5 separate regions of the Homo sapiens genome follow, and all the other regions are linked to region 3. The links come from fine-mapping of genetic effects on gene expression. A gene starts in region 3. Each other region holds a variant in brackets. All regions are shown on one strand. Distances are from middle to middle. Region 1 overlaps ZDHHC14 (zDHHC palmitoyltransferase 14). Region 2 overlaps ZDHHC14 (zDHHC palmitoyltransferase 14). Region 3 holds the start of ZDHHC14 (zDHHC palmitoyltransferase 14). Region 4 overlaps ZDHHC14 (zDHHC palmitoyltransferase 14). Region 5 overlaps ZDHHC14 (zDHHC palmitoyltransferase 14).

Region 1 (5,102 bases), 180 kb before region 3:
CCCAGCACAGTGGCTCACACCTGTAATCCCAGCACTTTGGGAGGCCAACATGGTGAAAACCCCACTTATCTACAAAAAATACAAAAAATAGCCGGGTGTGGTGGTGCACACCTATAATCCCAGCTACTTGGGAGGTGGAGGCAGAATCACTTGAAACCAGGAGGTGGAGGTTAAAGTGAGCCATGATCACGCCACTGCACTCCAGGCTGGGTGACAACAGTGAAACTCCATCTCAAATAAATAAATAAATTCAACTCAACAATTCAAGAGGTCTGGGTGAGAGCACCTGCTCTGTGCCAGGTGTGCGTGTATAGTTTCTGTTTCCTAATTATAAACTGAGGGTGGCTGCTTTGTCATTTTTGTCCCCCATGTGTATCTGAGCGCCGGGACAGCAGGTCTCACATGCGCGCCCGTCGGACACTCTACCTGCTGAGTCAGAATTTCCAGGGGAAGGTGCTCACTTGTATATGTATACATTTTATTACTGAAAATAATACACACGGTAAGAAAAAAAGCAAGCAGGTAAACATTTCCAACCTCCACGGGATTCTATTCTGCACTACGATGGCAGCCTTCAGCCTAGACCGTGTCCTGGCACGTGCCAGCTGCTCAGCAGGTGTTTGATGAAAACTCAGCATGGCCTCTGAGCTTTGTCCCTGGCCCTGACCCCAGCAAGGCATGCTTCTTCCACACACGGGATAGATTGTTTTCAATGAAGCAGAGTGAATGTCGTTCTCAGGTGTAGTTGCAAGAAGCCACACTCAGCAATGCTCTCTGAGGCGATTTCCAATAAAGGACCGCCTTGCACAGGGCAGCTAACACCCCCACGCTCTGAGGACCTGGGCTCCCCGAAATGTCCTTCTGCACTCTGCATTTAAATGCTGACTATTTTTTGGTTTTAGTTTCTTATGGGCTTCCATTCCAAACAACTCATTACAGTCTTGTTCAATTTCTTCTTTCTCATGTTCTAGTGGGTTCGTGATTAGACACGCCACGCCTCATAATGTTGTGCTTGGATAAGCAATCTGCTATTTTCACAGCTTCTTCAGGTTAATGCATCCGTTCCTCATAATGCTTCTGTGAGTCAGGCAAGGCCGTGGGATCCCATTATCCAGATGAAAACACAAAGCCCCTAGAGAGAATTCGTGATTTGCCAAGGCCAAGGCAATGAGTAAGAAGTACTGCTTAATAAATGTTTGCTGAATGCATATCTATTAATGCTAGAGTTTATGTAATGACATTTACTGATTTTTTTTCTTCTAATTATAAAGGTAACACATGCTCATCATAGGGAATATCAGAAACGTACAGAGAAAAAAACTAAAATTACTTGCCAGTCCAATCACAAAAAAAAACTTGTTTATATTTCCTTATAATTCCTATATATATTAAGATCCCAATGTACATCCAATTTTGTATTTTGCATATTTTCATTGAAATTGTATAAGGATAACTTTTATAAGCCATTAGATATCTTTGATATCAATATTTTAAGACGTTCTAACAACGTGGCGTTTACAGAAGCAGATTGCAAAGGTGATTCACGAGGACGTGGTGGTTGGCCATCTCTCTGGGATAAGTGGTCTTCAGCCGGGCACCTGCTGCCCCACAGGCTTTTGAAGAAGGTGTACTGTAGCTGTTGTGTAGGCAACTGATGTGGCAACAGTCGGCCCCGCTTCCTGGCTGACACGCTCTTCTCCAGGACAGCTTTGCTCCCCAGCAAGTGCAGCAAAAATTCACTCCAGAATCAGTCACTTGCCTCTTTCCGTGGGCATGACTTTAGAGCCATTGGCTTTAGAGCTGAGTTGGCCACCACCCTGTGCCTGCATGAGTGGAAAGGTATAGTGTAATTCATCATAGACGTATAGTGTAATTCGTGTATCCATTTCCCTCCTGGTATGCATAGAAATTGCTTCTACTTCCTTTACACTATTATAAATAACTCTATCATGAACATCTTCATGTTTATTTTCAAGTAAGGTTTCTATTTTGCTCCCTGCAGCCCTGTCCATGGGGGCCTATTTCAACTTCTTTCACAGTGAATTTTTTCCATCATTTTATTATTTTGGTTCTTCATGTTTATTTCTAAAACTTGACACAATGTAGAAAGACAGCTCCTAATTCTCTCTCTGTAAATCCAGACGTTTCAGAGCTTTCCTTCCAGACTCTTTTCTGGACAAAACATTTATAATGGGTCCAACTCCAAAATAGTATTCATGACAACCTGGAGCTTGAAGTGGGGAAAAACAAAACAGTGAAAACAATGAATGGAGTATGTCTTTAACTGAGAATGAGAAGAAGTGCCAGGAAACATGAGCATGCTGTTATTCCAGGAAGATGCCCTTCAAGATGGCAGGGTGGCTGGGCTCTCCTTGGGAGACCTGAGGGCAGTTCCAGCTTGAGCGGATTCTTTCCACTCATGCAGGCACAGGGTGGTGGCCAACTCAGCTCTAAAGCCAATGGCTCTAAAGTCATGCCCACGGAAAGAGGCAAGTGACTGATTCTGGAGTGAATTTTTGCTGCACTTGCTGGGGAGCAAAGCTGTCCTGGAGAAGAGCGCGTCAGCCAGGAAGCGGGGCCGACTGTTGCCACATCAGCTGCCCACGCAATAGCTACAGTACACCTGCTTCAGAAGCCTGTGGGGCAGCAGGTTCCCGGCTAAAGCCCACTTGTCCCAGAGAGATGGCCGACCACCACATCCTCGTGAATCACCTTTGCAATCTGCTTCTGTAATCACCATCAGTCTCTCTGTAGTCATAATTGTCAAAGTGTGCAAATAGTTATTAAAATATTGATTAAAGAAAACCAACAACCATTTATCATCATGGAAGAGTGGTTGTTAACTGCTTTTATCTCGGCAGAGCTTCATGGG[G/A]AGCTTGAAAAAGCTCATTGTTTGTGTGTTTTGAGCTGTAAGAGTTGGGAAGTGTGATTAGACTCAAAGGGCTCACTTTCATTTGTATTAGAGAGCTGGGGGGAAATCCACCCTCCGAGGTTGGGGGCTGAGCAGCTGTGCCTGCAAGTCCTGCTTCCAGATGCTTCTCCCCTAGAAAGTTCCTACAGCAGGGAAGAGGAATCTCTGATCTACATTACTTGAACTTTGTTTTATTGTTTGTTTGCTTTTTTTTTTTTACCACCAAAGTTCACTTGGTGATTTTTGCAAAATGCCATCCCAATCATTTTTGTTTTAGTAATGACTCCTTACAACCACCCTGTGCACTGTCAAGTGGAAAAACAGAATCATAAGGGCCTGAAATGAGGATCCCAAACAGAAGACATAAAACCAAAAACACAATTCTGAGTCTTTCATTGCTTTTGCCTGAATCCAATCTTTCTTTACTGATGGGCCATTGCTTTTCTTATATTAGAAATTCCTCCTCTCCACAAAATTGGATTCCATGTTTGCACCAGAGTCATTAGTTTTGTTTTCCTCTAGACTTGGTAACAGCTGGGTGTCAGCCCTCTCGATTGGCTACTCTTGTCACTGAACGGCCTACCTGTGGGCGCTCTGGGTGATCCATGGCTCTTGAACAGTTTCCCTGTGTAATGCAGACTAGCCAGGTCAGAAATGAACCATCAGAATACCAGGCATCTGTCAAAAGGGGATCAGGGGGACATGAATGTCACCTGGCTCAGAGTAATTATCAGCCATTTCTGGGAATGGCAGCATGTCGGTTGAGGAGTTTAGATCTATGCTGTCCAAGGTGCTGGCCACTGTCTGCAGGGGGCTCTTGGGCACACATATTGTGGCTAGATCTCAAAGATTTAGTACAAAAAAAGAGAATGTAACATATCTCAATACTTTAAATATCTTTACATATTGATTACTTTTCAAATGATCATACTCCCAATAACTGGGCTAAATAAAACATACTATTAAAGTGAACTTCACCTGCTTCTTTTTACTATTATACAGTGGCTGCTGGAAAATTTACCATGTGTGGCTTGCATGTGTGGCTCACATTATAGACTACTGGACAGCGCTGGCTTGGCCAATCAAAATCATTCATTGGAAATCAGGGGAAATTCACTATTTATCCCAATAAGGGTGACGGAAGTGAGAGCAGTCCCCAGTACTCTGCCCGGATTGCACAGCATGGGCCTCCCACAGGGGAGTGGCCGCCATTCCTTTGCTAGTCTATTTGCTTGGGAGCACTGAGCTGAGAGCCATCTATTGCTCACACTCCTCTCAGTGGTTACAGAAATGAAACGAGGAAGTCTGCAGATAGCAATGGACCCAGCTGACAAGAGGTGGACCACAAACCCCTTCCTTGTCTTGAAGTTATTCTTAGAGCTAAATTTGCAAATAAGGACAACCAAAGTCTTGCCCCTAAAATAACGTTTTGTTTTCATCTCATTCTTCCATCTAACGCATGCTGGACACATCTAACCAACGACTCACCTCTGCCGAATGTGAAAATCAACTGTGCACTTTCTGTCCATGTCTATAAAATCCATATATATTATAGGATGAGCCATTGGAGACTAAAATCCTAACATGGCAAAAGTCAAGTTTCTTTTCCCTTCTATCAGAACAGGCACCCCTACCAATCCTGACGCCTGGCAGAACCCTCCCAGAGCCACCAGCCTGGCACAGGTCCTCTGCCCGCCCGTGGTGCTGGCCCTGCCCCTCTGTTTAATTTGGCTGCAATTTCCCACTCTGCCCTGACCTAGTCACCACTAGCAAATCCTCCTCTCCTGCTACAGCGTGCGAGAGGCTGTGCTAGGCCCGCAGGTGCAATATTTCATGTCATTCTCCGAGCAGCCCGGCAGTTCAGGTGGTGCTATTTTGCCCCTGGTTCAGAGAAGGTGACTGCAGCTGGAGGGCTGAGCGGCCTCCCCAGGACACAGCCCGGAGTGGCATGGTCTGGTCCAGGCTCTCGGCCTTTCCCTCGTGGAGAAAGAGGACTGAGTCCTCCCTCAGTGTCTCTTGGAGGGATCCCTCTGCGCTCCAGTTCCCTGATACAGGCCTGGCCTCATCTCTAACCCGAGCCCCTCAGTGCCCGCAACTCTTCCTCCTCATCAGCCCCACCTCTCACTGGCTTCTCCACCAGAGTCAGCACTCTTCAGCTCGCCTGGAACCCGCCCGGGCCTGTCCTTCAGCT
Region 2 (5,102 bases), 24 kb before region 3:
TGCTTATTTTACTTCTGAGAAGTTCATGGTAAGTTTACTTAGCCAGGTGACCCATCCAAGCAAGGTTTATTTAGTTCTAAGTTCACATGCCATCCTAATCAACCTGGAATAAATATGGAGCATGAGGACAGGCCAACAAGAAGTGTCTGTCCCATCAGACTACAATGAAATGAACATATAAGCACCGAGTTCTGCCCTTTGAAGATGAAGGCACACCAATTTCATTGTAATCACATGGCCAAAGCACCAACAGGAATTTTCAAAAGAGACCACCTTTTTTTAATTCTCTTTTACTTTACAGCTGAGACAATTGCTGTGTCTTCTCAGATGAAAAGTGCCTTGGTTTGGGCAGTCTACAAAAATGATTTGGGGACTTTTATTTGCTAATGGGAAGACTACCAAGAGTTAGTTTTCCTTCTAGGGGACTGCTGGGAAGTTTTCTTGTGTCCAGTAAATCTTGGCTTAACAGGAAAGCAAAATTTAAGAAGAGTATAAAACAGCTGCGACTTTCATCCCCAATGAATCCTAGGAGGCAGAGGGTTCCCTACCCAGAGACCACCTCTGCGCTGCTGCCTATACACAGCGGCCATGTAGGAAAGGGGACGGCAGGGTCCCACTCACTCCCTTCCCAGGGGCGGGGCTACAGGGTGGCCTGGTGTGGAAACCCACCAGGGACGCCAGCAGCTCTGCAACCCAGCAGCCCAAGTCCGTATCTCAGTTCTGCTGCTTACTAGGTGGGCGGCTGTGGACTGGTCACCCACCCTCTTTGAGCCACGAAACCACCTACATTATAGGGTCATTTGTTGTAAGGACTAGTGAGACGTATAAAATTCCTAGCCCATAATGTGTGTCCATTACATTTATAGAAATTCTTTTATACATCCAGGGCACTTCTAATCCAAGGTTGAGAACGGCAATGCTAAAATAAAAGCCGGTGCATGTCTTAATGCCTCGTAGCTGGAGCCTGACAAGCAAGACTCTATCCCCCTTCTCACTGCCTCTCTGACCCGCAGACAAAGAGAGGCTCTTCTGCATGTCAGGCAATTAGCTCAGTGAGGACTCAGCATTGCTGAAGAAATGGAGAAGAGAGGACTGGAGAAAAAGGAAGCAAGGCTGCATGTTCAGCTGCGCGGTTTGTTCACTGAACAAGGGCTTTACAAGTAACGGCACCATTTACACTGTAGACCTCATGGAATTAGATCCTTAGTTTGAAATTTTTCCAGCAGAGGGAAATGTCTTATTTTAATAAAAATATGTATATAATGATAATTTTCTGACAGCAGAAATAAACCATTTTGAAGAAGGAGTGACTTTCTTACATTTACCTGAAGGTGCCCCATAAGTTAGCAATGGAGCAGTCAGAACCCTGCTGGGGAACCCCTGGCTTAACCAGATATTTCTTCTGAAGCTGGGAATACTCCACTAGCTCAGCAAGCCAAATTCCATCCAGCGCTCTCTGAGATAATATTTTTCTGCAATCATATTCAACCAAAGGTACGATTCAATGTCCTAATCTATCAACATCATAACCTCAATCTGAGAATTATGATCCTACTTATAGCAATACCTGAGGAGACATCACATGTTCAAGAATAGCCAAACAGATACACGGATCCCTTCGACTTTCAAATCCTTTCAACCTTCTTTCTCCCTCCTGTGCACCTCTCAGCACCCGGTCCTCCAGGATTCCAAGCTCTGAATCACCCCACTCCCTCCCCAACTGCAGCTTCCTGTTCAGGGCCTCAGGCCTGGTGGGAAAGTGATGAGCTAATCCACGCTCTGGAGCTGATACGATATAAACTTCATGCATTACCTCTCCCGCTAGGAATTAATATTTTTAAAAGCATGCCCTCAAAAGGACAAGGTTTAACTCAAACAAATGATTGTCAAGGGTGGCATTATCCTATTTAGAAGGGGCAACAAAGATGGAAAAATTGGGGAGGTCCGAGCAGGGGTGGGGGATGGGGAATAACCATCCAGAATTCCCCATTTATAGCCCATCCATGATTTAATCTTCATGTTAGCACACCCGCTCCATCACACTAAATCATTACAAATTCATGACAAAATGTCTTTGCTTGCATAGCACTTTATTTTTAAGGCCAGTCATTACATCAAAG[C/A]GCTAACTAGAGCCTCACTTATAAAGTGACAAGCAGTTAGTCAATTATAATAAAGAATCACTTATAATTGAGTAAATCATTGCTCAAAATACAGTTGCTTATGCAAAAATGCACCATGATTATTATTAACAGTACAACATATTTTCCACATCATCATTACCATTATTATTAATATCAACCCTTGGAGAGGTTTTTCTGACCAAAATTTCCAGACTTTAAGAGGAAAGAATATTTTTTTTAAAAAAAATTTTGAGCTCGGCCAGGCACGGTGGCTCACGCCTGTAATCCCAGCACTTTGGGAGGCCAAGGCGGGTGGATCACGAGGTCAGGAGATCGAGACCATCCTGGCCAACACAGTGAAACCCCGTCTCTACTAAAAATACAAAAAATTAGCCAGGCGTGGTGGCGGGTGCCTGTAGTACCAGCTACTTGGGAGGCTGAGGCAGGAGAATAGTGTGAACCCAGGAGGCGGAGCTTGCAGTGAACCGAGATCGCGCCACTGCATTCCAGCCTGGGCGAGACAGCGAGACTCCATCTCAAAAAAAAGAGCTCACCTGGGGGAGGTTTTGCGCTGGATCTTTTGGCGGTGCAAAAAAGTTCCCAGATGGGTTTCTCTCCTTGTTTCACATTTCTGAATTTAGACCCTAACATAAAATATTCCTGAGCTACTTAGAATATATATTTTTAATGAGCAGAAAAAAATAAATAAAACGGGAGCTTCAGCCCTGTTTCTCTTTACCCACTGAGGTTGAAATCCACCACTTCTGAAGGCATCCCTGTAAATGTTCTGAATGGGACCTGGGAGGGCTGCTTTTCTTACCCATTGCTTCTAATTTACTTGCATATCCTTTTTCCTGAAATGTCAGTAGCGCATAAGGAATCCATTCATTAACTCTTAACTCCTAATAAGAAAATAGTCAATGGCTAAAGAGCTTATGAGGAAGAGCTGAAATATAAACAAGCAAACTAAAAAGTTTTGTAATGCTATTTTAAACATTTTTCTCTAAATCTAAAATATTCCAAAATTAAAAAATATATATTTAAAAACAAGTTATCTAACCAAAGACAAGGACCCAGCTTCCATTCAGCATCTATGAACCAAGCACAGTGCCACCTGCCCCAGGGACTTTCTGTCCTTGACTCATTGCTAGGAAACGGTCAACAGCTATTTTTATCCCCTCAAATGGGCACTTTAGAGAGACAGGAGAGACCCTCTCCCTAAAGCAACTCCCAAGTATCCACTAAGGCTTCTGTCACCACTGGGGAGTCTTATCAAAGCAAAGGATGTTGAATAAAGGCCCTAGGAATTAGTTGAGGAGGACATAAATTATTTTTCAGAAAAGAGTCATTTTCCGGCCGGGAACAGTGGCTCACACCTGTAATCCCAGCACTTTGGGAGGCTGAGATGAGGGGATCACCTGAAGTCAGGGGTTCGAGACCAGTCTGGCCAACATGGAAAAACCCCACCTCTACGAAAAACAAAAATTAGCCGGACATGGTGGCACACACTTGTAGTCCCAGCTACTCAGGAGGCTGAGGCAGGAGAACCACTTGAACCTGGGAGGTGGAGGTTGCAGTGAGCCGAGATCACACCACTGCACTCCAGCCTGGGTGACAGAGCGAGACTCTCTCAAAAATAAATAAATAAATAGAAAGCCACTTTCCATGTTCAACGTATTCTATTTTTGTACAATAGACTCCAAAGATATATGGCACTGAGTTTTCTCATCTGTAAAATGGAACTAATAACAGTACCAACTATGGGGGAAGTGTGTGGGTTAAGTAAGCTACCAGCCCTTAGCCAGCACCTGGCTTGTGCAGGCAGGCCCCACTGGGAAAAGTCCTCCCGTTTGTGTGCCCACCATGCTCAGCACCTGCCAAGGCACCTGCTGGTGTTGGTTTAGCAGCAGCCGCAGTGGGTCTGCCCTCCTGCAGGCGGGTCCATGAGGCTTGCCACTTCTGGACTGCCTTTCACGCTTCCTGACACCGGTGGGTGGCAGCGTCTATGTTATGGTGTCACATTAGCTAAGGAGATCATACTTGCTAAACTAAGCTAAGCTAATGAGCTCTGCTCAGCTAATCAGCTCTACAGAAATCAGCCTTCTTTTTTAGTGAATAGGCAGCCCCTAAAGTTAATTTGTAGGTTGGTTGTTTGAAACTGGGAATGTGTCTTCCCAAAGAAACAATGTGACAAATGAAGACAGAGTTCTCAGGCCGGCCCTAAACCCTTTTCTAATGCTTAAGGCAGAGAACAATAGTGCAGGGAATAATTGTACTGGAGTTTAGGGGCTGTGGGTCCATGGTAGGGTACAGGAAGAAAGCAACTGGCAGCCTTCCCCTTTCCCAGGTGCATAGGTTGAGTAAGGGTAAAACATTGAAGAAAATAATAAAGAAAATAAACATCAGTGACTATTTCATTTCAACCCAACTAAATGACCACAAATTTCACAAAATATATGCTTTCATTCATAACCTAGCAGGTTATTTCGTAGGTTATTGTTCCAGCTTGTGGAGCATGACAATAGTATTTGCTGAAAGGGACAAAACAAAGAAATTCTGTTTAAAACCCCTTTCCCATCCAAGAGTGCTTGTTAGAAATTCAATTTACATTTTCTCTGATGTGCTAACATCTTTAATGAGAGCAGGTGCTCTAAAATAAAGCCAAATCCATGAACTCTGGTGAAAATTAGCATAATTTTTTTATTGTACAATGCAACAAGTCCAGTTCAGAAGGCAACAGAAGGTATATCGCCAGGCTGGGCATGGTGGCTCATGCCTGTAATCCCAGCACTTTGGGAGGCAGATGCGGGCGGATCACCTGAGGTGGCCAGTTCGAGACCAGCCTGGCCAGAATGGTGAAATGCCATCTATACTAAAAATAAAAAAATTTAAAAACTAGCCAGGTGTGCTGGTGCACACCTGTAATCTCAGCTACTTGGGAGGCTGAGGCAGGAGAATTGCTTGAACCCAGGAGGCGGAGGT
Region 3 (5,102 bases):
AAATAAAAGATGTTAAGTAATAACTGGGGGGATCCCTAAGCATACAGTGGGGACTTGGGTATATACAGAAAATGAAATATTCATCATCCTCCATGGAGCACACTTGTGGCTGAAGCTCTGCAACAGAATCACAAAATTAACCCATTTTCTCCACAGTTAAAATCGCTAAAAAGAGCAAAAGTGCCAATTTGGATCTGTTCAAGATTTTTTTTAAAAAACTGTAGGAACACAGTTAATACTCTGCAACTAGAGGACCACCTGTAACTAAATTCACCATTAGAGAGATGGCATTTCTGTTAAACCACATGGCATCACGCTTCCAGTGCCAGTGTTCATCCTAACAGATAACGTAAACTCATGGGGAACCTCTATGCCCCTTCTTCCAGTTTCCAAGGTCTGTAAGGACAAGAGGCTGCTCTCAATGGGGGCCCATGGGAGCAACAGCAGCATGAGTAGAGTGTGTCTCCCTGCCACTCTGAATGCCTGTTCACACCCTTCCCCTCCCGTCCACAGGTCTCCCCACTGACTCTACCTACTAGTGTCAAACAGACACAGAACCTAAACATCAAGGGGGACCCGGGAACTGCACATACCATCGGAAATGGGGAAGAGGAGTTGTGTGTGAGAAGGACTGGGGAAGGGGAATTCGCTTAAATCAGAGATCCTTCTCATCGCCTGGTCTAACTCAGTCCTCTTAAAACTGCTAATCAGCGCACAGTGTCCAGATACAAAACGTTTCTCCTGAGAGTCAGAGGGCTTTGAGCGACAAGTATTACGTTGTCAAGAGATCATTCATTTCCAATTGAGACAGCATTTGGAAGAGCAAAAGCCAGGCACAAAATTAGAGCCTATTAATCCTAATCAGAAACAAAAGTAAATAAATTCAAAAGGTTTTAATTGAGCCTACCCAACAGGAGGAGGCGGAGACTGAAGGAGTATCAAGCCCAATAATAACCAGGATTTGGGAAGCCCAAAGAAGAGCTCCCTATAAATATATTGCTTTCTTTAAATTCTGAGGGGAAAAAAGTAACTCCACCTTTCATTGAACATAGGATACCAGAAATTACATAAGGAGTTGCATTCCAAATGTTGGATGCAAAAAAAGCAACCAAAATTGATTGGAATGTGGTTTAACTGCTTTATCTAATCACTGCTAATAAATAAGAAGACCTTTCATTAGTTGGCAGGAGGACAGTTGCTACTGGCCAATTTGATTTTCCTGAAAACGGTGAAGACTTGCATGCGCTTTTTATCCCCCCAGATATAATCCCTGAAGTCCAGACTGTTTCTGGAATCGGAAGTTGTCACGTAGTGTCATCCTCTTCCTTAACAGACCTAAGGTCTCCTTTCACATGTTCCCAAATTGTTTGTTTTGGACACCTTTTATTGCAACCTTTTTGAAAGTGAAGAGTTTAGAAACCTCATGGCAAATAAGAAATTGTTAATCCAGAGTGAGCATGTAGGAGGCTGGAGAATGCAATGATCTATCCAGGGCACACTAGGCAGCCGACACTTTGAAACCTGAAATAGCCAAGATTCCTCAATTATTCGTCGAAGTTACATGGGAGATTCAGTCAACTGAGCTTAAGAAGATGCCCTATATGTTGTCAGCAAGGGGGAAAAAGTCAGTTCCATGTATCCCTGACTTAGGAATCTATCGCACCCCACCTTCCCACGGCAGGCTACATCTGGGCTGATTTGCTGGGTCCCCAAACTCGGTAGAGAGCGCCCCAAGGATCAGGGACCGGCGGCCCCACCTGCTGGGTCCCATCCGCCACCTGGATTGGCAAGGCCTGGCCCCCCTTGCAAGTGGACCCCTTCCCTCCCTGCTCCCAGAAGCCCAGCCCAGAACGGCGTTCTTTCCGGGGGCCCAAAAGCAATCAGACCTTTAAAAGAAAAAAGAGGGAGCGCAGACTGGCATTATATAACAATTTACAGTAGATAAGACTTCTAGAAAACGAAAGCAGCCCGAGGAGGGGCGGGGGACAGGGGAGACCAGGGGAGTGCGGCGTCGGGGGAGCGGTCGCCACCACTTACTCGAAGGCGAAGAAGAGTCCGCTAGTGACCAGGATGAGGACGAGCGTCAGGTAGAAGACGCCCGTCTGCCGGGCCATCATGATCCTCCCGTTACAGAAGAACTTGTTTCTTCCCGGGAACACCTCCCATTTCCTCCGGGCCGCGATTTTCTTCTTCTTGTGGGGCGACTCCATGGGGGAGGAGCTGTGGGTGCTGATCTGGCTGTACTCGCAGTCTTTCATGGGCCCGCCGCCGCCGGGAGGCATCCACGAGGGCAGCCGGCTGGGGGCGCACACCCCCAGGAGCCCCCCGGCCGCGCGGGCCCCGCCGAGCCACGACCGCCGCCGGCCGCCCGGCCGCCCCCCGAGCCGCGGCGCCGCGGCCCCTACACGGGCTCCCGGCTCGGCGACAACTTTGCCGAGGACACCCAGGTTAACCCTCCGGGGAGCCCAACTGTCATAGCAGAATCCCCGCTCCGTGAGGGGACGGCGCTGGTCCGCAGCCCGCGGCAGCACTCCTCCGTCGCTTCCAGCCCGCGTCCCGGGGCGCGGGGCTCAGCCCGGCCGGCCCCCGGGTCGCCGAGCGCCCGCCCCCTCGCGCGGCTGCCCGCTCGGCCCCGCAGCCCCCGGCTCCCCGGCCGCGCCTCGGCTCTGGCCCGCCGACCCCCGAGCACTGCGCCCCGAGGGGACACGAGGCGGCGGCCCCGGCGCCGGCTTCCTCGGGAGCCACTTCTGCGGCGCGGCCAGGTTGGGTCCACTCCTTCCTCCGGCAGCGGATCCTCCCAGGAGAGAGCGCTGGCGACTGGGCGGCCGCGCGCGGCACCGGCAACCCCTCCCAGGGGTGGGGACAACCACGCACGTTTTTCTGTCAGGAGCCTCTCGGCGAGAGCCGGGGCGCCGCTCGCACCGCGACCCGGTGTCGCTGCGCCTGGCAGCCTAGTCGAATCCGCGGCCCCCGCGCGGGGATGCGCGGGCCGAGGGCGGCGGCGGCTCGCGGGCCGCGCGGCGAGGGCTCCCTTGCTCCCTCCTACCCGGAGGAAGCGGCCCCGGCGCGAGGAGGGCCGCGGGGACACAGCACAGACACTTGTTTGCAAGGCTCAGCCCGGCGCGCGCGCGGCGCTCCGAGTGGGTCCGCCTCCTCCGGGCCGGGTGGGCGGTGGCCTCGCGCCTCACCCGCGGCTCCTCCTCCTGCTCCTCCTCCTCCTCGCCCGCGAAGCCAGGGCACCGGCGCAGCGAGATTCCAGCCCCAGCCCCCTCGGGCGGGCGCCCTGGGGTGTGGAAGGCGCGGGGCTCCCTGTGGCATCGCCCAAGTAGGGATGGGGTCGGGCGCCCGCGGCCCCGCCGCGCAGTGCGCTCCTGGCCGACTTCAGTCCGTCTCGCGGCTTCTTCCGGGTTTATCCCGCGCAGCAGCTGCCGCCTCGGGACACGCTCATTCCCACGGCCACCGGCAAGCCACTCCTGGCGACTCCCCGGGACCTGAGGAGCCGCGGCGCGGAGGTGACCCTCCCCGGCCTGCGCCTCCCTTCTTCCTCCTCCCCAGCTGGGCGCGTGGTCGCGTCGCCCGGGGACTCTGGTGATGCCCGAGAAATGGGCTGGGGGTGCCGGGTGCCAGGATGGGGTGGGGCGGCCCTAGGCCGGCCTGACTTCGGGACCGGGCTGCGGGCGAGGGTCTCGGGGCCCGGCTCGGCCGGCTTCCGGGCCGAGAAAGAAGGGCAGAGGAAGCGGTCAGGGTCCCCTCCGGCCCCGGCCTCCCTCCCGGAGTATAAGCCCTTGGAGGCCAGGTTTTGGGTTGCTGCCGCCCAGCTCTTTCGGTCTCCACTTCTCCCCACGGACGTTTACAGCTGCTCGCTTTATTTCTCCCTCCATTCCCCCGTGGAGCCCCCTCGGCAGCGGAGGGGTCGCGTGCTTCTCCTCTCCCGCCTGCGCCTCCCCCCTTCCCACCCGACAGCCCAGGAGGAGCTGCGGGCGCGGCCCTGGGACGGCCGGAGCCTGGGGCTTCTGCTCGCTCGCGCCCTCCCAGGCGTTGCCGCGGGTCCGAGCCCCCGCAGAGGTGGGCATAGCCCCGGGGCCGCAGAAAACGAAGGCAGCTGGGCAGGGATGCTCAATTTCCCGAGCCCCACTTTCCTTTCACAGCCCACTGGGATGTGTAGTTCTTCCGCCCGCAGGCCTGCGCCGAGGAGAAGCACGACTCGGGGCCTTAGAAACTACAAGTCCCTGCATCCCCCGCGACAAGGGCAGGAGAGGCGTGGTGCTGGGCGTTCTGGGGCTAGGTGGTGGGAGATGGGAACCAACAAAGGGGGTTGTGGGGAACGGTGCCTTCTCTGTACTGGGCAGTTTGCACGTTACACATGTTCTTTGTCTAATCTTCGCCGGAACCCGGTGAGGCATTATTGTATCCAGCTTAGAGAAAGCTTAACTACTGGCCAAACATCACAAAGCTCCCAAGTAGTAGAGATGGCATCGAACCCAGAGCCCTAAGTATGTCCCTTACAAAGCGTGCCTCAGTGAGGAGTGTCGAAGGGGGATGAGATTGGCTTATCCAAGAGGGCCAGTTGGGAGGAGCTGTGGTAAGGAAAAAGTGATGGGAATAGCAATTAGAGTATGACATGCAATTACAAGGAGTTTTGAATACAAGTGAAATTTACAGGGGTCCATTCCAAAGCCGGTTAGAGTCTAGGGAGAATGGATCTTAAGCACACGATAATAATTGGGTTTTAATTATTTTAGATATTGTATGAGAGACAAGCATATTACAGGGACAATTAAGTATTTGTGGCTGGACTAGTTTTAAAAAACCAACTGGAAAGCTTCATACATTTCAAGTGAAAGCTCTCATATGCTTTCCTGTCCTTTAGCTAATGAGATCAACGGGGTATTATTCTTATTCTGTTTATTGCAAGCACCTTTTCTGTGGGTGTCCAATTAATATAATAGATCCATTGATTTGATGGCATTAAAAAAGACTCCCACTCTTATTCTCAATGAAACCGAATTTTTCTGGCATTATGGTTATGCTTTTAAAAAGTCCTTCCTTGTCTGTTAGAGATATGTACTAAAGTATCTGCCAGCGAAATAATATAAAGTCTG
Region 4 (5,102 bases), 290 kb before region 3:
ATAAAATGGGTTTGCTCCTCACTTGGAACCACAGCTGGCAATCCTAGACAGAGCCGGTGAAGGCCGCAGTAAGCTGGGGGGTGGCGTGGAACTCTGCAAAGACTCCTCCCTTGTGCCATTCTGGGCCAGAACAGAGATTTCGCATTTTGCTGGCTTAGGGTGGGGACATGGCATTGTCCTCACAGGCTGAAATCATCACATTTGAAAGCTGGAACGAGCATCTTTTGGTTGGGCATAACGCAACTGCTGGGCCAATTTCTGCAGAACGGAGTGACAGGTCACTGTGCCCTCCTGGATGCAGTCTGTCTGCCACCTTCCTGCAGCATCCCCCTGCTTCCTGGGGCCCTCCCGGATGCAGGCTTTGTGCCGCCTTCCTGCAGCATCCCCACTTCCTGGGGCCCTCCTGGATGCAGGCTGTCTGCCACCTTCCTGCAGCATCCGCCTGCTTCCTGGGGACCAGGGCACTCACGCTCAGTTCAGCCTTCAAGTGCCGGGAAGCCTGTGGTTCCCTGGAGCACTCCTGGGAGAACGAACGCAGATGAATTTTTAAACAGCAGAATGAGTGTGTGTTTGTGTGTGTTTGATAATGGTCCAAGCTTTAATAGCATGGTAAAATATTTATTTTACTTTTTATAGCTAGCATGTAATCAATCTCTAACACACTGAAAGAAGTTAGAAACACCAACGTCTACTCAGCCACAGCTAGAAGGAACCATTCAACATTTATAAACATAAGTATTTATATTTATGTACATGTCACATATATGTTCGTGGGAAATGCAGAGCCATCACCTCGCCAGGTGAGCTGCCCCTCCGACCATCCCTCCTGACAAACAGAAGTGGGCGCCCCAGGGGGCATCATCGCTCATTCCTCTGATGCTGGGTTTCTTTTTCAAGCCACAGAGGACAGGGCTGTGGGCTTCTCTCTGGTTTTGGTTTTTAAGACATTAATTATCTAGCAAATTGGCCCATTCAAGTTAATCTCTCTCTTGACCCTGAATAGCCTTGATTCACTTCACCAAAATTCCCAGTCCCCTATTGGATAAATGATGCCAAGTGTGTGCCAGGGACAGGGTTGGAGGTGGGGAAATTGATAATAAATATTAAGTAAATATCCATTATGTGAAGACAAGTGAGTCGTGATCCTGGCTTCTGGGAATTTTTCACAGTGAGGTGGGAAGAAGGGCTGGTCACAGGAGAGTGGCAACCACTGAGTTAGGAAATGTTAGAAGCGGGAGGCCTCTGAAGACCATGATCTTGCTTTCCAGGGGAATGAGCTGAGAATGGACTGGGCCACACGTGGGACCGGAGTGAGGGCTAAGCCGGATTCGCGGTCACCCATGGAGCACCGTTCTCATCAGGGCCAACTCCTTCCTGGGGCCTCTGGGGAGCAGGTGGAAGAAAGCAAGGAGCAGAGACGGTTTGGGAAGTTGTGGAAGCTCCTTTGTGGGGCTGTCACTTTGGGCTCACAGGTAGCGTGGACAAGGAGAATCCCTGTGAGTTGGTGCCTGTGAGCGTGTGCGGTTGTGTAAGGAGGGCACTGCCCCATGAATTACACATTGCAGGTGGGTACAAGTAGTTAGGTGGTTCAGAAAATCAAAAATGGCTACATAGAATGGACCTATTCCATTTTCTATACGTGCATGCAGCATGACAATAAAGATGGCTCGAAGACATCACAGTGCAAGAACTCTGCAGGCCCTTTCAGCATGAATTATTTTGTGACCTGTGAATTGCCTTCATTCCAAATAAAACTTGTGTGCTTTTCTTTTTCCTATCTTCTTTTCTTTTATATAAAATGGCAACTCTTTCTCAGGAGTAATAGCCTTTTTCCATAAATGCAAATCACTTGGGTTACTTGTATCATTGGTCAATGTGTCTTGTCTTTCATATGGTTATAAGGAGCAAGGCCATGGCTTTGAACTTGAGTAGCTTTAGCTGTTAGATTTATGGTCTGGAAAGAAGCCAGGAGAGGAGTTGCTGTGTCCCCTGTGGCTGCCCCCATAGTGACACACTCCCTAAGTCCAGAGCCAGTTCGTTCCCTTCTAGGTGACCAATGAAAGTGAACAAAGTGGTCATTTTCTTAATTTCATTCTGATCAGTGTCTAGGAAGGATGATGACCTACATGATCTCAGCTTAGACTGTAAGCCGATTTCTCCTCCTCATTTTCTGATACCTTTACTAGGACCTCAAGTTGCACTTCTGGGATTGAGTGACACGTTAACACAGAAGGAAGCCCAGAAGACGCCCGACAGAACCTTCTCCCTGAGCGTCCCCTCCCCTCTCCCTACTTCCGATCAACTGTTGCACGGCAAACTGCAAACGTAGAGCAAATTCCACTAAGATGGTGTCAAAAAGAGATAATTAAAGAAAATAAATGATGGAAAACTTGCCTCTTATCTAAGAAATTATTCTATAAATATCTCCCAGTTCAAAGATTTGACTTTTGGTTGTCTGGGGACCATTCCTCGCTAGGGACATTTCAAGAAAAACTCTCCCCATCTGGATGACTTTGTTTTCATTTATGCTATTAAGGATAACCGTACGCAGATCCAAAATAACAGAGGACGTCATTTTATTGGCTGTCCACGGGAAGTTTCATCACACACGGAGGTGAAGACTGTGGGGGTTGTGGCACACAATATCTCAACACGAGACCTCATCGAGCGGCCAAACAGAAGGTGAAGTGACACCCGACACGACGGAACCCCAGCCGCCCTCTGCAGCCCCGGTGCCACCTCTCCACAGACGCCTCAGCCCAGTAAGCTGAGTGATGACACTGTCCATTAGTCTCAGTTCGTTGCACTGTCTTCCAACAAAACAGCACTTGAAAATTCACAAAATTAAAAAAAGAAAAAGAAAGCAGCACTTCCTTGGAAATAGCAACACCACTGTAACACAGACGGCAGCGTGGCATGCAGATCCACACCTGGTCGGTTTTTTCCCTTTAGGATTTTTTTTTTTTT[T/A]AATTAACAAATGGAATGGCAGGTCTGTTTCAAATATTAGTAGCATAACACATAAGTGCAATTGCAGTCTGGCCACAAGCGTCAGAAGCCTTCCGTGTGTCTGTCACAAGGGCGGGCAGACACACTCCGATTCCACCCCTGGAGGGTCACCAAAAGAAAGCAGCCACTTCTCTATTTCCATTGTTGTCAAAGCACTCAGGTTGGGGAAGAAAATTCAAATGAAACCAAGCTCTCAGCATCCGGGGCCAGCCACCCTGTGCCATCCTAAGTGGTCTCTGTACCCCAGACCTGGGGCTGTCATCTCCACCGTGGCATTGGCTGGGAAAGTCGCTGTGGGACACACCCCTCCGCTCACTCCTGCTGCCCATGGAGGAGCCTCTGGTGTCCCCCGGCCTGGGGCCATGTGGGTCACACGGAGCTGAGCTTCACCAGGCCGCGCACAGAGTCCTCATGCAGGGAGTCCTGGCTGGCCAGGCCCAGCACGTGCATGGTGCGGCTGTGCGCCAGGGGGCTGCCCGCCGCCAGTAGCCTGGGGGGCGAGGGCGCCTCATCGGGCGTCAGGAACTGGTGGCCCATGTGCTCATCTTTCCGGGGCATCACGTCCGCGAGCGTGGCCTCGGCGAGGTTGGGCATGGAGGCGGGCGGTGTGGGCGGGCCCAGTGTGAGGCTGGCGCAGGGCGTGCCCAGGCCAGGCTTCCCGGGCAGGTGCAGCTCGTCGCTGGTGAGGCTGGGCTCGCTCTGCAGCAGGGGCGTGGCTGCAGCCTGCAAAACGAATTTGGTGCTCTGAATGCACTGGTCTTGGTCGCACTGGAGAGCGGGAGGCGCCAGCAAAGAGAAGGTGGAGAGGAGGGGGCAGAGGTGGGGAGGGACAGGGATGGGGACAGGGCACGGGCGGGGAGGGTGGGGTGCGAGAAGAGAGAAACCGTTAGTGACACCTCAGTCAGCCAGGCAGGGAGCGCCTACAGTGGTCCAGGTGCATTGGGAGAGACACCCAGCGCCTGGTGCTGCAATTGCCTCTGCTCAAATGAAGTCACCACGGGTGCCCAGTCATAACATGCAGCCACTGGTTATGAAGCCAGTGGTCTTGGTTCCCAATTTAAAGGACATAATTAAAAAAATCTCTTGGACAGAGTCACAGGCCATCTACAGCAGTGGGTGGCTGTTTCTTGTATGCTGAAAACCATTTTTTAAACCACATTGTTTTAAAAATACAGGAGTTGTACACCCATGTTCATAGCAATGTTATTGATAGTAAGTCAAAAGTCAAAAGTGACTCAAGTGTCCACTGATGGATGACAGCAGGGACAAGGTGCGGTGTAGACACACAGTGTTACTGATTCAGCCTTAAAAAGGAAGTGCATTCGGACACATCCACGAGATGGGTGGACCTTGAGGAAAGCATGCTAAGTGAAACAAGCCAGTCACAAAAAGACGAATAACTGTGTGATTCCACTCAAACAAGGTCCCTGGAGGGTCATGTTCTTAGAGAGAAGGAAGAATGGTGGCTGCTGGGGCGGGAGGAAGAGGGAGCTGGTGTTTAAGGCATGCAGAGTTCCAGCCATGGAAGATGAAGAAGCCCTGGAGATGGGTGGTAGTGGTGGTTGCAGAACAACATCAACGGACTTAATACTACTGAACTTATACTTACAAATGGTTAAAGTGGCAAATATTATGCCATGTCTATTTTACCACCAAAAAAAGAAAAGACTGTTTGGTAAAAGCCTAGAATTCCCCACTGCTAAATTTCCAACAGCTTCAAGAGCCATTCCCGAAGCCTCTGTGGTCTGAGAATGCCCACGTTTGAGAAGACGTTTCCTATTCTTCCACGCGTTCTTAAGTCACATGATATCTGCCTCGTGTCCTCTGTTTCCCTTCGCTCACTGGGCAAAGAAGATAGTGTAAGCACATTTCCAGGCTATGCGACAGGCACCCCTGATAGCTCCGCAAACCCTCTCCTTGAACTATGGGCAAGTTTCAGAACAGCTAGAAGAGACTTAACAGGACTTATAAATCTTCAACTTGAGCCTGTGCGGTACCTTCTCAGTGAGATTCAGGAGCAGTGTTTTGATGGGAAGGAGGAACAGACATGGATATTAGGTGAGCAAATCGGGACTCTGTGCTCAAGCTATAAAGTG
Region 5 (5,102 bases), 160 kb before region 3:
AAGGTCTATCCCTAATAGAAATTCAACACTTTGATCCTGTGATTTCTAGTACAGTTTTTGTCATTTTTTTCTAACCCCAAATCAGTTGCTTACGATCAGATCATCCTTGGGTGAACTGTAAAAACTGAGTTTCTGAAACTGAAGTTTCCAAGCAAGCCTCCAGTGACCCCAGCTTCCCTGGCCCCCTGCTGCTATTCTTTGATGTCTTTTTAGCTGCACCCTAAGTCATCGGGAACATTCTTTCAGAAGAGAGAAGTGTAAGGCATTTCAAGAGCCTTGAAACAGACTCTGAAGCCCAGAGCCCTCCTCCTCCCCACCTACTCCTCTCAGAAGTTTGAAGACAGGGGAAAGCTGTTTAAATCCTTGGCAAATCTTCAATAAATTACTCAGATGGCTGATTCCAAGGGGCCATTATGGGCTTCTATAAGGAAGAGATCTACAACGGATAATTAGAATGAATAACTCTAACCATAAAAAGTTTCCAAATCTAATTGTTCATTTTTCTTTCTTTAGCCAGATAGCACAACATAAATGTGTTAAGATTTCATTGAAACAACCTTATCTTCCAAAGCCAAGTAGTATACGGGAGGACTCCTTATGAAGGGTTAGATCAGTGATGGAAATGAGCCCAGCTTGCAGGTGCCTGCACCCCTTCCTCAGCCTGGAGGAGGTACAGCTAAGCTGGCAGGCAGCGGTCCCAAAGACATTGTACCAGCTCTGCCATTTATTCCTGTCACGCTTAGGTAGCTTTTTATGAGAACGTACATTTGTAGAAGGTGGAGAGAAAACTGAGTGGGAAAAGAGAAGAATTAGACAAAACAAAAAACGATCATTTACTACACATCTACAATGTGCCAGGCACTTTTCCTATAATTGCTAATCCTGAAAAGAACCTCAAAAGATCCATGCCATTACTCCTATTTCACAGATAAGAACACAGAGGGATAGAGTTTAGAAAACTGCACCGCTCACCTAAGTCACGCAACTAGAGAAAGGGTGAGCCAGGATTCAAACCCATGTCTGAGGCCCTCCAAAGCCCTCTCCTTCCTCTTTTCCTTCTGCTTCTTCCACCCCATCTTTTTCCTCTCTCCCTTCCCACCCTCCTTCTACTTTTTTTTTTCTTTTTTTAGGGGGAGTCTCCCCTGTCGCCCAGGCTGGTGTGCAGTGGCGTGATCTCGGCTGCAAGCTCTGCCTCCCGGGTTCATGCCATTCTCCTGCCTCAGCCTCCCGAGTAGCTGGGACTACAAGTGTGTGCCACCACACCCGGCTAATTTTTTTTGTATTTTTAGTAGAGACGGGGTTTCACTGTGTTAGCCAGGATGATCTCGATCTCCTGACCTCGTGATCTGCCTGCCTCGGCCTCCCAAAGTGCTGGGATTACAGGCGTGAGCCACTGCGCCCGGCCTCCTCCTCCTTTTTTTTTTACATCTTCATAGAGGTATAATTTATGTACCACAGCAGTCACCATAGAAAGTGTGCAATTCAGTGACTTGTAGTGAATTTATTGCATTGTGCAACCATCACCACGACTTAATTTTAGACCATGTTCATAATCCCAACAAGCTCCCTCATGTCATGTGCAGTTAACCTGCACTCCTACCCTCCCAGCCCCAGGAAATCACTAATCTCCTTTCTGTCTGTAAAGATTTGTGCTTTCTTTGACATTTTATACAAATGGAATCACACAGTACATAGTCTTTTGTATCTGGCTTCTTTCCCTTAGCAAATGTCTTTAATGTCCATGTTGTAGCCTGTATCAATACTTTTCTTCCCTTTTATTGCTTCATGGAATCCAATTGTATGGATATACCACATATGGATCATCAGTTCATCCTCTGATGGACATCTGGGTTGTTAGGTTTCATGCAGCTATGAATATTCATATACAAGTCCTTGTGTGGACATATCTAGGAGTGGAGTTGCTGGGTCATATAGTAATGGTGTTTAGCTTTTGGAGAATTCTGAGAAACTGCTTTCCAAAGTGGATGTACCATTTTACAATCCCACCAGTAATGTACAAGGGTTCCAGTTTCTCCAAATCATCACCAGCATTTGTCATTGTCAGTCTTTTTGATTAGTGCCATCCTAGAGGGTGTGAAGTGGCATCTCACTATTCTATTTTTTGGTTGTTGTTGTTGTTGTTGTTGTTTGACACAGAGTTTTGCTCTGTTGCCCAGGCTGGAGTGCAGTGGCACCATCTTGGCTCACTGCAACCCTCCGCCTCCTGGGTTCAAGCGATTCTCCTGCGTCAGCCTCCCCAGTAGCT[A/G]GGACTACAGGCTCGCACCACCACACCCTGCCAATTTTTTTTATTTTTAGTAGAGATGGGGTTTCACCAGGTTGGCCAGGCTGGTCTCAAACTCCTGACCTCAGGTGATCCTCCCACCTTGACCTCCCAAAGTGCTGGGATTACAGGCATGAGCCACCGTGCCCTGCCTCATCCACTTTGTAAGAAAGGCAGAAAGTCTGTTCCTAATCGTGCTGATTTTGCAGATGCACCTGCACTAACCTGGAGATGGGGATCACTGCAGGAAACTGCATCACCCCCAGTATGGGAGCTGGGCCCTTGCACTGAGAAGAGGATTTTCAAGTTACCTGCTCATATATTGTAGGCATAAACCATACAGTTTTGAAGGAAACTAGGTTTGACTTCCCTCTCTCTCCTCAATGATATGAGGAGCTGGAAAGAACAAGGTCTGAAATCTGGAAACCTGGGTTCTAGGCTCCAGTTCTGCCACTTTCACCCATTTAAGCCCCTCTTGGGGGCTTTGTTTCCTTATCTGTAAAATGGGTGTAATAATAAAGTTTTCCTTACTAGGTGGCTTAGATGTGGAAAAAAATGCAGTGATAGCCATGGATGGGCCTGACAAACGATTAAAGTGCTACAAAATGTGAGCCTTAAAATTATGCACTAGCATGCCCTGTCTTGGAATCCCATGATGCAGGGGCTAAGAAAGAGATTGTCTGCCCACTGCTGCTTCTCCCTCCCCCTCCTTCCTACCTCAGGACACAAGACAGCTGCAGTCTAGCAGATGACACCACACACTCCACACACTCCCATTTTACTGCTCCCTTTCCAGGCAGCAGGGATGAAGGATGAAGGCAGATGTCGAGAGAAGGACAAAGCTGTGCTTTAGTACTTGGGGAATGGTAGGACCAGAATAGGCACTTTTCAGCAAGATCCACAGCTCTATCTTCTTACACTGTAGACAGGGAGGTCCCTCCAGCTTTAGTGAAGGCTGCAAAGGAAAGTCCATAGAATAGGAGGAATCCTGGAAGAGAATTATCTCTGCCAAGTGATTTTTCAGGCCTAAACATTATGTTCACACCAAGTCATCACAGCTCCTCTGCCATGCTTGTGAAATTTACCAAAGCACCACAGCAAAGCTATACATTCACAATCACAAACTTTTAAGAGCAAGAAAAAGCACTCCTTTTAATTAAAAAAAAAAAACTGTAAAAGTTTGTTGTGTAAGGGATTAGGATCTGTTTTAATATCTTCAAAATGGGTTGTAATAAACTTTAGTATAGGTTTTAATATCTAAGGAAAAATAAAGCTATTCATCTCAATACATATCACAGATACATGTTTATTATACCTAAATAAAGGAAATTCTCAATCCTGGCCTGGATAAACAAGAAAGCTGCCTAAGATGTAACTTTCCTAGATTTATATCATGGAAACTGGTCATGCTCCAAGGATTGCAAAAGGGAGAAAGGGCAGCAACCTACAACTGTAATCTCTCGGGGTGGAGGCTGCTTAGTAGAGTGGAATCAAACACTTGGGTTTCAAAGAAACATCAGAAGCACAGCTCACACTGATGCTTTGCTCGAGTGGGCCTGCAGTCCTGCCTCCAGGATACCTGTCCCTCCAGCCTTATATCCCACCTCTTCTTCAGCTCATCCTGCCCACCCAGCGAGCTAAGGAACGCTGACTTCTGGCCTCCTTCCTTCCCAGCGCTCAGCTCCTCCTGCACAGCCCTCGGCCTGCCGTCCCCACTGTAGCTGGGCCCAGGCGGGAAGTGACCAGAGGCCATGGGCAGACTTTCAGTGTTACCTATTTGCCTTTCCAGATCGGCGGCTTCATCAGGCGTGGCTCGTGGGAGGACTCCGGGGTCGCTGAAGCTGGTGCGGAGCAGGGTCCCCATCACAAAGAAGAACAGGATGCCAGCGACTGCAGGGATGGCAGGGGTGATTTTCACCGCCAGGTACGGACAGCTGCCGACAGGTTGGACAGACCGGAGAGAAGGGGAAAAGAAAGGAAATACAATGTTAGGAATCAACAGTAAGCAGTCTTTATCTTCTAAGAAATCAAAAGCTTATTTGGAGGAGAGAAATTGATTTCCATTAAAAATTCATCTATGTGAAAGATTTACGTTTGGGGAGGTCTGCAGTTCTGTCTTACAGACAATTGAACCCCCACTCCCCAGTATGACGCCCAAGCCCTCTGCTCTTACAGGAAGATGCTGGCAGAAGAATGAAAATAGTCCTGCTTGTATAATCAGTCTAAGACGCACAGAGCTTGTATAAATAGACACGTGTCCTCTGTGCTGTAAACACGGTTCGGGAGTCTATGAGATCCCCCTGCCCTCCCCTGGGATTACATAACAGAAGAAGACACCAATTTAGAATGATCTTCATGAGAGCCAGCCTTTCCCACTTGGGTCAAATGACTCGGGAACTTTCAGCCAGCACCAAACGCTGAGGACTGTACACACACTTTCAAAGGGCAAGAAACCAATTTTCCATGTTCTGGAGGTAATCTATTCCAAAGTGAATGAGCTATGGAAATGGACTTGCAGGCAGGTTTCGGAAGAAGATTTAAGGGATTTCAGCAGCTGGAATAGAATCATCTCATGCTTTTCCAGAGGGCATCTGAGCTATCAATGGATGAACATGGCCCAACTCTTAACTCGACCTTTTCACTGCTGTCAGTCTGACATGCTGACGTGAAGCAGGGATTGTTATGAGTCAGGGAGAAGTGCCACTGGGACAGACTAAACTCTACACGAGCCAGCCTGGGAACCAGTGTCTGACATTTGGTCTCAGATCCAGGTATTCTAGAGCTGGAGCAGTTCTTACCGTGGCCCCTTGATGCAGTCAGA

Evidence for each region. PIP is the estimated chance that this variant, and not a neighbour inherited with it, causes the effect.
Region 1: its variant is fine-mapped to the expression of ZDHHC14 in whole blood (TOPMed, PIP above 0.99).
Region 2: its variant is fine-mapped to the expression of ZDHHC14 in pancreas (GTEx, PIP 0.94).
Region 4: its variant is fine-mapped to the expression of ZDHHC14 in whole blood (INTERVAL, PIP above 0.99). The same link has a PIP of 0.9 or more in lung.
Region 5: its variant is fine-mapped to the expression of ZDHHC14 in whole blood (TOPMed, PIP above 0.99).

Annotation. Positions count from the first base shown.
Region 1 is chr6:157,556,811-157,561,912 of GRCh38, reverse strand. The region is part of intron 2 of ZDHHC14 (zDHHC palmitoyltransferase 14); the gene reads right to left. Among named protein-coding and RNA genes, the nearest start is that of MIR3692, 30 kb to the right of the region's middle. RefSeq lists enhancers at 1-15, 1-98, 376-505, 4,409-5,102, 4,893-5,102. The variant G/A (reference allele first, on the strand shown) is at 2,873.
Region 2 is chr6:157,402,807-157,407,908 of GRCh38, reverse strand. The region is part of intron 1 of ZDHHC14 (zDHHC palmitoyltransferase 14); the gene reads right to left. Among named protein-coding and RNA genes, the nearest start is that of ZDHHC14, 24 kb to the right of the region's middle. The variant C/A (reference allele first, on the strand shown) is at 2,121.
Region 3 is chr6:157,379,202-157,384,303 of GRCh38, reverse strand. It overlaps ZDHHC14 (zDHHC palmitoyltransferase 14), which reads right to left and starts at 3,114. Exons shown (of 9, transcript NM_024630.3): 1 at 2,038-3,114. The coding sequence starts at 2,282. LOC124901446 reads left to right here and starts at 3,213. Exons shown (of 1, transcript XM_047419644.1): 1 at 3,213-4,990. The coding sequence starts at 3,603. The coding sequence ends at 4,493. RefSeq lists enhancers at 2,057-2,196, 2,955-3,566, 4,178-4,790 and silencers at 2,287-2,336, 2,847-3,736, 3,897-3,976.
Region 4 is chr6:157,671,396-157,676,497 of GRCh38, reverse strand. ZDHHC14 (zDHHC palmitoyltransferase 14) reads right to left here. Exons shown (of 9, transcript NM_024630.3): 9 at 1-3,774. The coding sequence ends at 3,376. Among named protein-coding and RNA genes, the nearest start is that of MIR3692, 140 kb to the right of the region's middle. The variant T/A (reference allele first, on the strand shown) is at 2,968.
Region 5 is chr6:157,541,698-157,546,799 of GRCh38, reverse strand. It overlaps ZDHHC14 (zDHHC palmitoyltransferase 14), which reads right to left. Exons shown (of 9, transcript NM_024630.3): 2 at 4,055-4,215. Among named protein-coding and RNA genes, the nearest start is that of MIR3692, 15 kb to the right of the region's middle. The variant A/G (reference allele first, on the strand shown) is at 2,267.